Linked DNA regions of Homo sapiens. The protein of the gene in region 1 interacts with the protein of each later gene in a pairwise test. Each region holds a gene or a part of one and is shown in the gene's direction. Other genes may lie near its edges.

Region 1 (3,621 bases):
CCTCTTTTGCCAGGTCACCTTCTTTGGCTCCTAATTTAAACAGTTGGAATTAATTGCTGTTATTCAAATGGGCATTTGGTCGTACTGCTTCTTTCTCTCGCCTTCAAACTGGAATACCCTATCTTTTATATCCTCATAAAAATTCTATCCTTCCTTCAAGGCCCATCTCATGTCACATCCTGATTCATCTGTTAGTGCTCTGATTTGAATTCCTGTAGTATTTTGTATCTTAATTATAGCACTCAGTATCTCATCTTGTATGCTTATCGTATTCTAGATAGCTATTTCAGATGAGGGCGGCAAACACTGTGTGTAGGGGCAATCAAATATTTGTCAAATTGTCAGGACCTTTCTTGTGTTGCCTTAACTACACTATTGTTAGCTATAATTTGGGGTTGATGAATTTTAAAACAAACCCTGAATGAAATTTGTGTCCTGCCAAACCTTTAGGATATACCTGCTTATGGCTTTTGGATGTACAATTTAAGCCAAAACAGGATGGGTTACATTGGTGAAGTTTACTTTTTGCTTCTGAAATAACATCTAGAATGTTAGTTTGTAGAATAAACATTTTCTAAGAATTTTTTTACATTTTTTACCTGTAAATGCAACTCTTTTTACAATTCTTCATTTCCTTTGGAAGGAGTCCAAAACTACTTACCTGGAAGACCTTCCACCACCCCCTGAGTATGAATTGGCCCCGTCCAAGTTAGAAGAGGAAGTGGATGATGTCTTTCTCATTCGAGCTCAAGGACTGCCCTGGTCATGCACTATGGAAGATGTGCTTAACTTTTTTTCAGGTATATTTTATGTATGTTTTATTTATTTATTTTTTTTCCTTATATTGTTTCTCACAAGCAGGTATGTATGTTTTAAGTATGTAATTTTGTCTGAGTAAAAGGTAGTGCTACAAATCCATGTCAGACTACGCTGTCACCTTCCTTTTTGATGGTTGGGAACTGTCTCATTCTGGTTGGTTGCATATACCAAATGATACCATGTGTGCTGTTTGCGGTATGTAACGAATTGAAAGACTTTGGGCCAGGGGCAGTGGCTCAGGCCTGTAATCAGCAGTTTGGGAGGCCAAGGTGGAAGGATGGCTTGAGGCCAGTAGTTCCATACCACACTGGGCAACACTGTGAGACTGTCTCAATTTACATATGTATAAAGACTTTGAATGCAACAAAAGTATTTTAACGTTAAGACTGCATAGTATGGGCCAGGCGCAGTGGCTCACGCCTGTAATCCCAGCACTTTGGGAGGCCGAGGCGGGCGGATCACAAGCTCAGGAGATCGAGACCATCCTGGCTAACATAGTGAAACCCCGTCTCTACTAAAAATACAAAAATTACCCAGGCTTGTAGTCCCAGCTACTTGGGAGGCTGAGGCAGGAGAATGGTGTGAATCCGGGAGGTGGAGCTTGCAGTGAGCCGAGATGGTGCCACTGCATTCCAGCCTGGGCGACAGAGTGAGACTCTGTCTCAAAAAAAAAAAAAAATCCATCATACTATGTAGGTTTTTTTTTTTTTGAGACGGAGTCTCGCTCTGTCGCCAGGCTGGAGTGCAGTGGCATGATCTCAGCTCACTGCAAGCTCCGCCTCCCGGGTTCACACCATTCTCCTGCCTCAGCCTCCCTAGTAGCGACTGCCACCACACCCAGTTAATTTTTTGTATTTTTAGTAGAGCTGGGGTTTCACCGTGTTAGCCAGGATGATCTCAATCTCCTGACCTTGTGATCTGCCTGCCTCGGCTTCCCACAGTGCTGGGATTACAGGCGTGAGCCACCGTGCCCGGCTGGTATGATGGAATACTACGTAGCCATAACAAAGAGTGAGATTATGTGCTTTGCAGCAATGTGGGTGGTGCTGGAGACCATTATCCTAAGCAAACTAACATGGAACATTAAACTTAATACTGTATGTTTTCACTTACAAGTGGGAGCTAAACAATGAGAACACATGGACACAAAGAGGGGAACAAGAAGACACCAGGGCCAACTTGAGGGTTGGGGAGAAGATTAAAAAATACCTATCGGGTCCAAGTGCGGTGGCTCACGCCTGTAATCCCAGCACTTTGGGAGGCCGAGGCGGGCGGATCACGAGGTCAGGAGATCGAGACCATCCTGGCTAACATGTTGAAACCCCATCTCTCCTAAAAATACAAAAAAAATTAGCCGGGCGTGGTGGCACGCTCCCGTAGTCCCAGCTACCTGGGAGGCTGAGGCAGGAGAATCGCTTGAATCTGGGAGGCGGAGGTTGCAGTGAGCTGAGTTCACACCACTGTACTCCAGCCGTGGTGACAGAGAGAGACTCTGTCTCAAAAAGAAAAATAAAACCTATTGGGTACTGTGCTTGCTACCTGGGTAACTAAATTATCTGTATACCGAACTCCCATAACACATGGTTTACCTATGTAGCAGTCCTATACATGTACTAAATAAAAGTTGAAAAACAAAATTACATGGTTTGAAATTATTTTTCTCTGTGGTATTAATATATACATATCAAAAAGTCAAGCCTGTCAGTGGAAATATGGAATTAAGGGTGACTCTTTATGTAATACAGACATTTACAATAGAAGGTCACTTAGTATCAAGGAATAAAGTTCCCTTAATAACATGTTTGGAGGGTTTACATATCTGTGGGATTTTTTTTTTTAGTTTCTGTATCTGACTATGATTTATTTTTATTAATTTTTTTGAGATGGAGTCTTGCTCTGTCACCCAGGCTGGAGTGCAGTAGCGCAATCTCGGCTCATTGCAACCTCCACCTCCCGGGTTCAAGGGATTCTCCTGCCTCAGCCTCCTGAGTTGGTGGGACAGCAGGCACCTATCACCATGCCCGGCTAATTTTTGTATTTTTAGTAGAGACAGGGTTTTGCCGTGTTGGCCAGGTTGGTCTCAAACTCCTGACCTCAGGTGATCCACCACCTTGGCCTCCCAAAGGGCTGGGATTACAGGCATGAACCACCATGCCTGGCTATTTCATTAATTTTTTTAGCTGCTCCTTGTGGAGCAGGAGTAAATCCTAGGCAGTATGCCCAGAGTGAGCCTGGTCAAACTTTTTTTTAAAGCCACTTGGCCACTTACATCTTGGACTACTCCCATTATAAAAAGTATGCAGTATGAAAAGGGGAAAAAGGCTGGGTGTGGTGGCTGATGCCTGTAATCCCAGCACTTTGGGAGACTAAGGTGGGAGGATTACTTAAGCCCAAGAGTTCAAGACCAGCCTGTGCAACAAAATGAGACCGCCTCTCTACAAAAACAAAAAGTTAAACTATGGTAATAAAATTACTCATACAGGAAATATTTTAGAGACCTATGGAGATGATTTTAAAGGAAGACACTTATGTATAAATTTAACTATATTGTATTTCCTTAAGTGATTGTAGAAACATTGCAATAGAAATAATGAATTTTGTGTTGGGCCTATCCTGATTTGCTATTTAATGATCAGGAAGGAGATCATAAGCTTCTGTGCTAAGGTTTGCTTATCTTTTCTACTTGGAAGGTTTTAGAGACTAAATCCTTATTGGTGTTTGGATGACTTCAGTGATGGGGATTTGTGTAAGGAATATGACACTTGTTTCCTGCTTTGTTGTTGGAAAACTGCATTCTTGTGA
Region 2 (3,621 bases), on another chromosome or scaffold:
TTAGGTTCACAGCAAAATTGATTGGAAAATACAGAATTCTCATCCATTCCCTGCCCATCCCCCCACAGCTTCCTCCACTATCAACATCCTGCACCAGAAGAGTACATTTGTGACAGTCAATGAACCTACGTTGACAAATTACCACTCAAAGTCCATAGTTTACATGAGTTCACCCTTAGTGGTGTTCTTTCTGTGGGTTTGGACAAGTGTATAATGACCTATGTCCACCACTCTAGTATCCTCCTGAGTATTTTCACTGCCCTAAAAATTCTCAGGGCTCTGCTTGTTCATCCTCTCCCCTCAACCCTTGGCAGCCACTAAACTTTTTTTAATTTTTAATTTTTAAAATTATTTATTTATTTTTAAAACAGAGTCTTGCTCTGTTGCCAGGCTGGAATGCAATGGCTTGATCTTGGCTCACTGCAACCTCCGCCTCCCAGGTTCAAGTGATTCCCCTGCCTCAGCCTCCCGAGTAGCTGAGACTACAGGCACCCGCTACCACGCCTGGCTAATTTTTTGTATTTTAGTAGAGATGGGATTTCACCATGTTGGCCAGGATGGTCTCGATCTCCTTACCTTGTGGCCTGCTTCGTTTTCCCAAAGTGCTGGGATTACAGGTGTGAACCACTGCATCTGGCCTGCAGCCACTAAACTTTTTATTGTCTCCATGGTTTTTGCCTTTTCCGGAATGTCAACAGTTGGAGCCATACAGTATGTATCCTTTTCAGATTGGCTTCTTTCCCTTAGTAATATGTATTTAAGGTTTCTCCATGTTTTTTTCATAGCTTGATAGCTCATTTCGTTTTAGCACTGGATAGTATTCCATCGTCTGGATATACCACGGTTTATTTACCCACTCACCTACTGAAGGACATCTTGGTTGCTTCCAGCTTTTGGCAATTATGGATAAAGCTGTAATAAGCATCCTTAGTGGATTTTTGTATGTACATAATTTTTTGGCTCATTTGGGTAAATACCAAGGATCGTGATTGCTAGATTGATCAAATGGTAAGAGTGTGTTTAGTGTTGTAAGAAACTGCTGAACTGTCTTCCACAGTAGCTGTACCATTTAGCATACTCACCAGTAATGAATGACAGCTCCTGTTCCTTTGCATCCTCTCTAGCTTTTGGTATCTACGTGTGTGTGTGTGTTTTCTTTGGATAGGCATGATACATATGTTTTTTAACTTATTAATTTGTCTTGGACATCTTTTCAAATTAGCACATAGAGAACTTTTACATTTACTTTGTGAACATCTGTGTAGTGGAATGGATGTGCTGTAGTTAATCTGTCTTCTAATATGGACGCTTGGGTTATTTCTAATATTTTCCTTTTATGAACAATGCTACAGTGACCATAAGTCACTTTTCTGTGTGGTACTGGTATTTCTGTAGGATAAGTTTCTAGAAATAGGATTGTTTGGTGAAAGTTGAGTGTCTTTTCCTATGTTTAAGGTCATTTTTTGCAATCTGCGCGTTTCTGTCTTTGGGTCATTTTCTGTTAGTTTTGTGTTTTTTCAAGACAGAGTCTTGCTCTTGCCTCCCAGGCTGGAGTGCAGTGGCATGATCTCAGCTCACTGCAGCCTCCTCTTCCCAGGTTCAAGCGATTCTCCTGCCTCAGCCTCCCAAGTAGCTGGGATTACAAGCATGCACCACCATGCACGGCTGATTTTTATATTTTTAGTAGACATGGGGTTTCACCATGTTGGCCAGGCTGGTCTCGAACACCTGACCTGAAGTGATCCCACCTGCCTTAGTCCCCCAGAGTGCTGGGATTACAGCCATGAGCCACTGTGCCTGGTCTATTTTGTTAGTTTTTTGAAGCTCTTGAAATGTTAGGAAGAATATAGCTCTTGGTGATACGAGTTGCATATATTTTTTTGTCAGTTTGTCTTTTGATTTTATAGAGCAATGAGTTTCAACCCCATTCTGATTTCATGGTCTATGGCTCTTCGTCACTATAATTATGCTACCTGGAATAATACATGTTTTTCATTCCTGAAGGTTTGTTTACATGTAACTATGATTTAATGCATCTAGCATTTTGAAACTGTCTTCTAATAACAATTTCTTCACTTGATAGACACGGCATCAGCGAGGAGATACGCATCCTCTAACCTTAGATGAAATTTTGGATGAAACACAACATTTAGATATTGGACTCAAGCAGAAACAATGGCTAATGACTGAGGTAAGAATTTAGTTGATTATCAAGAGAGATTTCCTGTAACTAGAATTTTCTTTTTTTTTTAAGACAGAGTCTTGCTCTGTTGCACAGGCTAGAGTGCAGTGGCATGATCTCAGCCCACTGCTGACTCAGCCTCCCGAGTAGTTGGGACTACAGGCATGTGCCACGATACCAGGCTAATTTTTGTGTTTTTAGTAGAGACGGGGTTTCACCATGTTGGCCAGGCTGGTGTTGAACTCCTGACCTCAAGTGATCCGCCCACCTCGGCCTCCCAGAGTGCTGGGGTTATAGGCATGAGCCACTGCGCCTTGCCTAGAATGTTTTAATATGGTGAAATCTGATAATGCTTTTTACTTTTTCTTAAAAGAAATGGTGTAGGGTCTTTGTTTTTTGAATGTACACATTTATAAGATTGATTTGTTGGTTTTCATATAATTTTATGTTATCTGTTTCAAAATGTTAAAGGTAAGACTTTGTGTAATAGTTGTAAAGAAGTCATTGTACCAATTCGACTTAATGTTTTTACAGATTAATGCTTATTTTGTATTGCCAGATTTATAGTTTGTGTGCTTGTAAATTGAATTGTTTTTGTTTTAGGAAATTTAAAGCATAAGGTACTGCAGGGATAGGAAGATATTTTGTTGCACAATTACTGCTATTATGGCTTGATGTGGAAAAAAAGTCGCGAATGCTGTGTATGAACACACATCATTTGAAGAAACCCCAACGCAGTCAGTGACCATGCTAATTTGGAAATGAATAGCATTTAAAAATTCAAATGTTTACCGCTTTAAAATATGAAGTGAAAACTAAGAAGACTACTTTCTAGGACCAGAGATAGATTCTAGAAACCAAATGTAAAATTCCTAACATACAATTCATTTATTTTTTTACCAAGCAAAATACAGGTCTTGACTTTTATAATGTAACATGACCATTAATCAGTATAATTGTAGTTCATTGTATTAGTGATACACAAACAATGGTAATCCACATTTAAATTTGCTGGTTTAGCTAACCTTGAGAATTCATAGACTACCAACATTTAGTTAACAATGACTTTGATCATTTTACTATTCTATTCTCCCTTTTTTCTTCTTTCTGTGTTTCTTCTCTTTCTCCTTTCAGGGTCAGGCTGGCAGCTGCAGAAGAAAATATATAGGGTTGCTCTTTTTGAAGAGCTTTCCTTCTGATACTAACTGTACAACAGAACTGACTAGAAACATAATTATATTCAGTAATTCCTGCATTCCTACTCAGTTTCATTCTCAAGCTGACATTATAGGTAAAGTTCTTGTATGCACTAGTCTGGTCCTTTTCAGTTCCTTCCACAGCTGCCATTGCCAGTTGATAGCAGATGGGGAAGACCATTGACTAGTAAGGGTTATGTTCCTTACTTTATAATGCCAGTATGTGATAAGCTGTACTTTGCA
Region 3 (3,981 bases), on another chromosome or scaffold:
AGGGCGCCAGAAGGCGGCAGGGGAGGCTCGCCGACCCCTGCCCCCGAGGCCCGCCCCTTTAACCCCGAGCTTCCTGGGGACGCGCCCGCCGCGATGGGGTGGGGGCGGGGCGGGGCGGGGCGGGGTGGGCGGAGCCGGGGGGTGGGAAGGCTGGGGCCTTCAGTCCCTCTCCGCGCCGCCTGTGGGTGCCCAGGAATTTCAGGACGCTCCCTGAGTCATTCCAGTCAAGTGCCTGGGTGAGGTAGGGTGGGGGGTGCCAGGAATGGGGAGGCGCTGCGCTGGGGCCAGAAGCGCAATGGGTCGTGCCAGTTTCTGGAGGCGGGCGACCTCGCCTCTGACCGCAACCCCAGCTACTTAATGATCCCCCTGGCGAAGCGGCGCCTCCGTGGGTTCTCCAGCCCCTGGGCCGCGGGTTCTTTAAAGAACACCCCCCGCAGCGGCCCGCAATTGTGGCCTTCCCAAAAGTTACTTAAAACTGGGGGGTGGGGTGCCTTATGGAATTTTGAGGCCAAGTTCTTAGTATTCAGCCTTTTCTAGTTGGGGTAATAAGGTCAGGCATGGGGGGGGTGGGGCTTGGGTACACAGTCTGTTTTGTGTCGCCTCCCCCCACCCCACGCGCCACCAGCGCCCAGAAAGTTGTTCTCCAAAAGGCCTCCAGGACACGGAGTTACCCGTCCGCCCATTATTGGGCCTGCTCTGTGTCAGGCACTGTTCTAGGTTCCCGGGACGCAGCTGCGAGACAGGGCTCCGCTCACGTGGCGAGGGTGCTGCACTACTTTAAGAGTTAAGTGGCCGGTCTTAGCCACCAAGGTCCCCGGGACCCCCGAGCAGTCCAGCCAGGGGCTCCCGAGAGTGTGGGGGTGGCACCTCCGCGGCCCCGCTGGTGTCCCCGGCTCACCTGGCCGGCCGGGCCGGGGAGGGGCGTGTGCCTGGGCGGGTGGATCCGGGCGCCCGTCGGTGCGCGCGCGCGCGCCTGTGTGTTTGCGGCTGAAACCCGACACCTCCCGCTGGCTGAGGTCAGGGAGCCGGGAGCGAGCCAGTGGCCCGGGAGTGGGCGGCGTTGCGTTTGGGTGTGTCCTCGGCGGCGACAGCAGCAGGTGTTTCTTGGCCGGGGCCCCGGAAGCTCCACCTCCCCAGCGGGCCCGAGCTGCCGCCGCCGAGCAGCCCCGGGTGAGATAAGCAGTTTAGACAAACACTGGGCGACGGTGGCTCCAGCATGTATCAGCCGAGGTGGAGCTGCGGGGCCCTGGCATGAAAGGTGAGCGCGCCGCACCCGGCCGGGGACGGGGTCCTCCCCCCTCCCCCCACCGCACTGTCCTCCTGCAAGTTCGCGGGTTTCGCGGGGGCGGCCGCCAACGGCTCCCGGGCAACTTCCCCGGAGTGTTAGCGGCGATAAGAGCCGGGAGGGCGGGCAGGCGACCAAAGGCCACCCCCTTCCTCCGCCCGCGGGTCGCAGCCTGGGAGGCCTGGCTGCGGGCGGGGACTCGGGGGCTCCGGGCTCAGGAGTGCGCTCAGCGGGGGATGGGGGGGGTGCGTTTAAGTGCGTGCGGGCTAGAGGGCAGGTAAAGTGGGGGGATGGGGGTGGCGGGGGGAGTCTCCGAGAGCTGCGGGCGCTGGAGAGCTGGAATGAAAACTTTGCGGCGACGCGGGAGGGAGCGAATGGGGGTGGCTGTGCGCCCCCGCGGCAGGTGCTGGCGACGGCCGAGGAAGCGGGGGTGTGGGGGGGGGGGGTGCTCGCTACTGGGGCCGCGCCGGTTAGGGTTCTTGTCTTGCTCCCCTCCCCCTCCCCGACCCCTTGTCTCGGGGGAGTTGGTCGGGAGGGCGGGACCGCAGCCTGCCGGGTTTGTGACCCCCACGCCCTGCTTCCCGAGGAAGGGCGCGCCCCGGGCTCGGCCGCTTCTCTCCTCTCTCTCCCCCCACCCCCGGCGGAGCGGCTCCCTGCCCCTCCCCTCCCCCCCGCAGAAGATGGCTGCCCCAGCCTCGGAGGTGGGAGAGGGATTGCACATCCGCCGCCCCCCACCCGCACTGGCCTTTTTCCCTCCCCGGCCCTTCCTGCTCCGCCTGGATGCGCCTCCCCGCCCCCAGCCCTCCCGGGCCCTGCGGCCGCGCTGATGGGCGGCGAGTGGCCCGACCGAGTGGAGCCGATTCAATTATATTGCAGCACCAGAGACACCTCCTCGGCCGCCCGCCCGCCTCTCTAGCAGGCTAATTAAATTCCCTTCATGGAGGCGGAGCGGGAGTGGAGCTCACCCTCCCTGCGCCCGCCCACCCCCAGCTTTCCGCCTCCCCTCCCCAGCGCCGGGTGGGGGACCAGGGGGGCACTTAGAAATGTGCGGTGGAGACTCGAGGCGCAGGCCATAGGGAGGGGGTTCCCAGATGGGGGGAAGGGACACCGCGACACCCTCATTAGATGGGGGAGTGGAGGCTGCGCCCTTTCCACGTGGTGGGCCGGGGGCCTGGCCGCAGTGCCCGTCTGAGTTCCGAGGGCAGCGTGCTGGCGGTGGGGGAGCACCTGCCGGGTTCCCAGCTGGGCGGTGGATGCCAGCCGGAGTTGAGTCGGTTTGGCTCTTACAAACTAGCCTTTGTACAAAGTGCGTTTAAAACACACTAAACCCTTGCTCCCCGCTGCGGTGCCTTATCTGGGGCCTGAGGGGTAGCGGCCACACAGGTTGGGGTTTGGAAACAAAAAGCGGGGCCACCAAATGGAAAGAGGGCTCCTTTTGTAAAAGGCGCCTGAACAAAAGGCCCAGCCGCACTCCGGGTGGAAGCGAACCCGCCTAAGCCGATTTCCAGGCGGCGGGGGACAAAGGGGCAGAGAGAAGGTCTTGGTGGGGGCGTTGTGAAATGTGCCCCCTGGTCGGCCGTCTCGTCCTCTCCTCTGGGATTCCGTGCTCCCGCCTCCCGGCAGGGGTGGAAGGGGGAACCCAGGTGAGCAGCCTTCCCTGGCCTCCCTCGGTGTTGCTTAAGCTTGGGGCACTTCAGTGTTGCTCACCCTGTGTTTACGGCCGCCTCCACCAGCAGGGACGGCAGAACCTGAGGCACAGGCTGTGCCTGACTCAGCCGCCACGCCACAGGTGAGGGGCCCAGGGCGCAGGCTCCGACGGCGAAGTGTGTCATCCCGGCCGCCGGCTGTGCAGGGAGTCGCCCCGCCCAGGTAGATTCAGGAGCGCTGGAAGAGGCCCTGGCCTGCGAGAGCAGCGACCTCGGTGCTTCCTAAGAGACTTTCCGAGACAGCCAGCCCCGTGTCGGCAGCGTTCCTGATCTCCTGCGGGCCGGGTGCGAGGATGGCTTTTGTCACTCTGGCAGCAGACACCAAAGTCAGGAGGGGAAGCTGGGGAAGCTGGAGCCAACCACGGTTTTGACGCTTGGAGTTTTCTTTCCTGGAGCCTTGGGGGCGGTGCCGGGCCAGAGCTGGTGAGAGCCCGCCAGGAGCCTCCGGTGACCTAGGGTCAGCCCTGCCTTGGGAAGGGAGGTCGGGAAGTCCTAGTTCTAGGCACAGTGAGGCTGAGCTCAAAACAAGGAAGGCAACAAGGTGTCCACTGTGGCGCAGGCTCTGAGCTGTTTGGGACAGTTTTTAGGATCTTGGAGTGTCAGAGTTCAAAGGGGCTTGTACATCTCCAAACTCGGTGTTTTAAAACTGCTGCTGGCCAGGCCTTTCCAAGCCCAGTTAAGCCACAGCCTCTGGGTTCCTGACCCGGGTCTGGGGGTTGTCAGAGCTCCCCAGCTGATCCTAACGTACACACTGGGGGTAGGAACAAGGGGCAAACTGAGGCTTGGGGCCAGGCGTGGGGCGGACACCGCGCTCACAGCAGGAAGCCTCCTCCGATGGCCCCGATGAGCCCTCCCCTCCAGCAGTCACTTCCCTGTCTCTGGGGGAAGTTCAGGGGCTGCAGATCTGAGTGCCTTGTGGTTTCAGAGCAGAAGCCAAGCCTGCCTGTGGGCTCAGCATCGCCGGCCCCAGGAAGAGCCAAGTCTGCACAG
Region 4 (3,621 bases), on another chromosome or scaffold:
TTATAGGCGTGAGCCACTGCAGCTGGCCTATATACCTTTTTAATTAAGAAAAGTAATTTTAGTACTTTTGATTAATTAAGGTAATTTAATTAACTAAAATTACTTTCATTTTAATTTACATTTGCCTCACTTAAAACCATGTTTTTAAACCTTGTTACATGCATCTTTTCTATGTGGCCCTAACTACTTAACTGTGACACGATGAAATATAAATACAGTTTTTAAAATGTTTTTATTTTTCACTAAATATTTCTTAGATTTTATTGTTTTTTCAAACCTTTCAAAAATTGATTAACAACGTAAAGTAGGTCATTAATTTTTAATGCTAGTTGTATATAAATTATTTTAACATATCTTCGTTCTTAACCAGAAAGTGAAGTTTTGAGTTACTGTGGCTGGAATGTTGGCAGGAAACCACCACCAGTGAGAATGTAACTGTTGGGATGGAAAAAAAGAAAAGGAAAAGGGTGCTTGACTTCCCATGAAATTTCTGCAGCAAACACATCTAGTCAGCTAAAATTGCTCATTAAAGGAGTGAGAGCAGAAGAAATGCATTTTCCAAATTGAATGCTAGATTTACAGTCCGTTTAATACCAGCGACCTCTCGCACACTAATGTTCAGTTCGAGTCATCAGCTGTCCCTTTGGGTCTTTTATCACTGCTTTTGTCAAGCTATCTATTTAATTGAAAGAAGTTAATTGAATGAAAATGATCAACTAAGCTTGTATTAATATTGCTAATGGAACTTTCTTCTTGGCCATGTTTGGAGAAAGATGTCAAGCTAGACTTTAGGAAGGGCCCATTAATGCTTGCACTTAACCTGATGGGCTAATTAAGGAATGCTTATTCATCCTCCAAGTCCACGAGAGTCTCTCTCCAGCCCGTTCTGCCTGGTTTTACAACACATTTCTCTTAGGAGCATGAGCATTAGCAGCAGCAGCCGTAACTGATAATGTTTTGATTGCACTGAATACAGTCCTAATGCATCGTTGAATTTATAATTTGGGCAGATTGATGTAATATATGTTTGCACAATTTATTTTAATTACCTATTTCTGTATTCCTAAGTAAACTGGGACGGTCACATGGTAAGCCTTTACTATATCCTTTCTTAAAGATTGACAAATTTGCAATTTTTCTATGTTAAAAAATAAGCAGTCTCACCTATTTAAAACTTATAATTCTTACATAAGCTTTTCCTGGATGTGGGTGTTAACGGTAGCATATTTGTTTTCCTTTCAATATTTGATTAAACCCTGGGGTCTTTGTTAATAAAGCTTTCCATGATGTGCAATATCAGGTGTTGTGTATGATATCAGATAATTTCACTGTTTTATGGCATCTGTTGAGAGTTTCATAATTTCCATGACAGGCTTATCTTTAGTATGTAGAAATCTCTGAACTTAATAATGCCATATAAGATATTTTCCACCCTGGCCTTATTTTGTTTTGGTTAAGCGTTAAATGAAAAGTTTGTACAGAATTTTTTTATGCCTCAAAATGACTCCCTGCCACTTTATTCATCATTGAAAGTTTTAAGAGTTAGGGCAAGGCCGGGTGTGGTGGCTCACGCCTATAATCCCAGCACTTTGGGAGGCCAAGGCGGGTGGATCACGAGGTCAGGAGTTTGAGACCAGCCTGGCCAAGATGGTGAAACCCCATCTCTACTAAAGATACAAAAAATTAGCTGGGCGTGATGTACGCCTGTAATCCCAGCTACTAGGGAGGCTGGGGCAGGAGAATTGCTAGAACCCGGGAGGCAGAGGTTGCAGTCAGCCGAGATAGCGCCACTGCACTCCAGCCTGGGCGGTAGGGTGACTCTCTCTCCAAAAAAAAAGAGGGTGAAAATTTACCTTTTTTTTGTTGGTGGTGGTGATTGTTTTAGGTTTGAAATCAAGTTGTTGTAAGACCTTTTGAGTTTAGAATTGTTTAAAGACCTTTTTTTTTTTAAAGGATTTCTGTTCTTTGGTCACCTGTCCCCCAAACCATTTTATGCTACCTGCTATTGAGCTGAGCCCCCAAAATAAAAATCACTGCATAATTTTTGAGTAATCAGCTGCTGTTAGCTGTTCTTTTAAGAAAATACTATCTCTATTATGAAGTTGTATGAACTTACACCTCTGTAGTTAACTGTGTTTTAGGCAGTATTCTAAGAGTTTTGCATATATTCATTTAATACAATAGTTCTGTGAGAAAGATACTATAATTTGTTTTACAGATGAGGTCATGTATATGATGGTAGAACCAGCTGCTATTCTACACTCCCCTTCTGAAAAGAATACAAATTGTATCAGCATTTTTCATATTATTGTTGTGCCAAATTTGAGTTGAAGAATTCGAGGTAGAATCAACCAAAGAACGCAGAAGCGTTTAGCCCATGATCTCCTGCCTTCCATTGATTTTGACAGAATTGCAAACGATGAGACCTGACTCCTTCAACACCGACCATTTTCATTTTTCAGTCCTATCATGGTCCTCCCAAAGTCATTTGTGTGAGAGGCTCTGCTGGCTGGTCACAGAGCATAGAATTTTAAGTGGATAGAGTCATCTTTCTTTGTCACTGTAAGAATTGAGGTCACTTTCTAAGCCCTGTCTTGACACTGCTAAAACAGTTTATGCATTTATCAAATTTATAAACTCCTCTTGAAGTGTAATTTAGAGCTATAATTACTTTAGCTTGATGAGATAGGAAATCCTGTTTTGAGATGTCTGTGTGCATCCACCAAACTTAACAGGAGTTTCCTCCTGTGATAGGGAAACAGGAGGAAGTGGCAGGGAATGAGGAGGAAGGTTCCCATGCCCTCATTATCCATATGTCTGGAGAGAGAGAGAGAGAGAGAGAGAGAGCCATACTATGAGTGATTTTTTTACTTCCTTAGTGGTTAAGTTGTATTTTTTCAGTTCCAAAAAGCTATTTTTAAAAAGTAATAAAGCAACAGCAGTGCCCTGTTAATATAATCCTAACATGCGACCATTTGACTATGTTACAACCAAGAGATCCAAAGCTTGTAGCGCTGTGCCTTATCCTTTTCTGTTATTGAAGATTTTGATTGATTTTGTTTTTGTTTTTTGACTACTAAAGTGGATGCTATATGCAGTAATTTTATAGTGTTTTAAATATGTGCTGAAGAATACTGTTTTTCAAAATACTCCAGTTTTTAACCCGTTTGTGCCAGAGGTTGCGAATTTTTTGTGTGAAAAATCAGGCCTTGGCAATGACCTTGAGCAGTAGAATATAAATCCCACAAGCTTAGCGTTCCAGTAATGGAACACTAGGCATAAATGGGTTAACAAGTGGTAACTAAGGGCTATATAAAATTTGGTTAACCCTTGACAGCAGCAGTGCATACCAGATACTTCATGACTTTCATAGGTTAGAGTGTTTTATTCTCAGTTATTTGAACACTCACAGTATTCATCCCACCCATAGTGACACAGCTCTATGCTAAGGGATCATAAATGAATTCACACAGGGTGCCTGTTCCTGCAGTATCACCACGTAGTGAAGGAGACATGCATTCAGCTAATGACAGTGGGAAACAGCAAACCACAGAGGCCGGTCCTGTGGAAGCACACAGGAGAGAAGCACCAGCTGCTGCGTCATCTGGCACTTGACTCACT

The links.
Region 2: the proteins of GRSF1 (region 1) and GTF2E2 interact in a two-hybrid assay, tested with the Homo sapiens proteins (one study listed by BioGRID).
Region 3: the proteins of GRSF1 (region 1) and GSE1 interact in a two-hybrid assay, tested with the Homo sapiens proteins (one study listed by BioGRID).
Region 4: the proteins of GRSF1 (region 1) and UBE3C interact in a two-hybrid assay, tested with the Homo sapiens proteins (one study listed by BioGRID).

Annotation. Positions count from the first base shown.
Region 1 is NC_000004.12:70,833,337-70,836,957, reverse strand, and holds part of GRSF1 (G-rich sequence factor 1), read left to right. Parts: intron 1-643; coding exon 644-800; intron 801-3,621. UniProt on the Homo sapiens protein: Regulator of post-transcriptional mitochondrial gene expression, required for assembly of the mitochondrial ribosome and for recruitment of mRNA and lncRNA. Binds RNAs containing the 14 base G-rich element.
Region 2 is NC_000008.11:30,613,178-30,616,798, reverse strand, and holds part of GTF2E2 (transcription initiation factor IIE subunit beta), read left to right. Parts: intron 1-2,083; coding exon 2,084-2,191; intron 2,192-3,621. UniProt on the Homo sapiens protein: Recruits TFIIH to the initiation complex and stimulates the RNA polymerase II C-terminal domain kinase and DNA-dependent ATPase activities of TFIIH. Both TFIIH and TFIIE are required for promoter clearance by RNA polymerase.
Region 3 is NC_000016.10:85,612,141-85,616,121, forward strand, and holds the start of GSE1 (genetic suppressor element 1), read left to right. Parts: upstream 1-1,181; 5' UTR 1,182-1,251; coding exon 1,252-1,258; exon of another isoform or gene 1,259-1,688; intron 1,689-3,390; exon of another isoform or gene 3,391-3,414; intron 3,415-3,433; exon of another isoform or gene 3,434-3,981.
Region 4 is NC_000007.14:157,208,348-157,211,968, forward strand, and holds part of UBE3C (ubiquitin-protein ligase E3C), read left to right. Parts: intron 1-3,621. UniProt on the Homo sapiens protein: E3 ubiquitin-protein ligase that specifically catalyzes 'Lys-29'- and 'Lys-48'-linked polyubiquitin chains.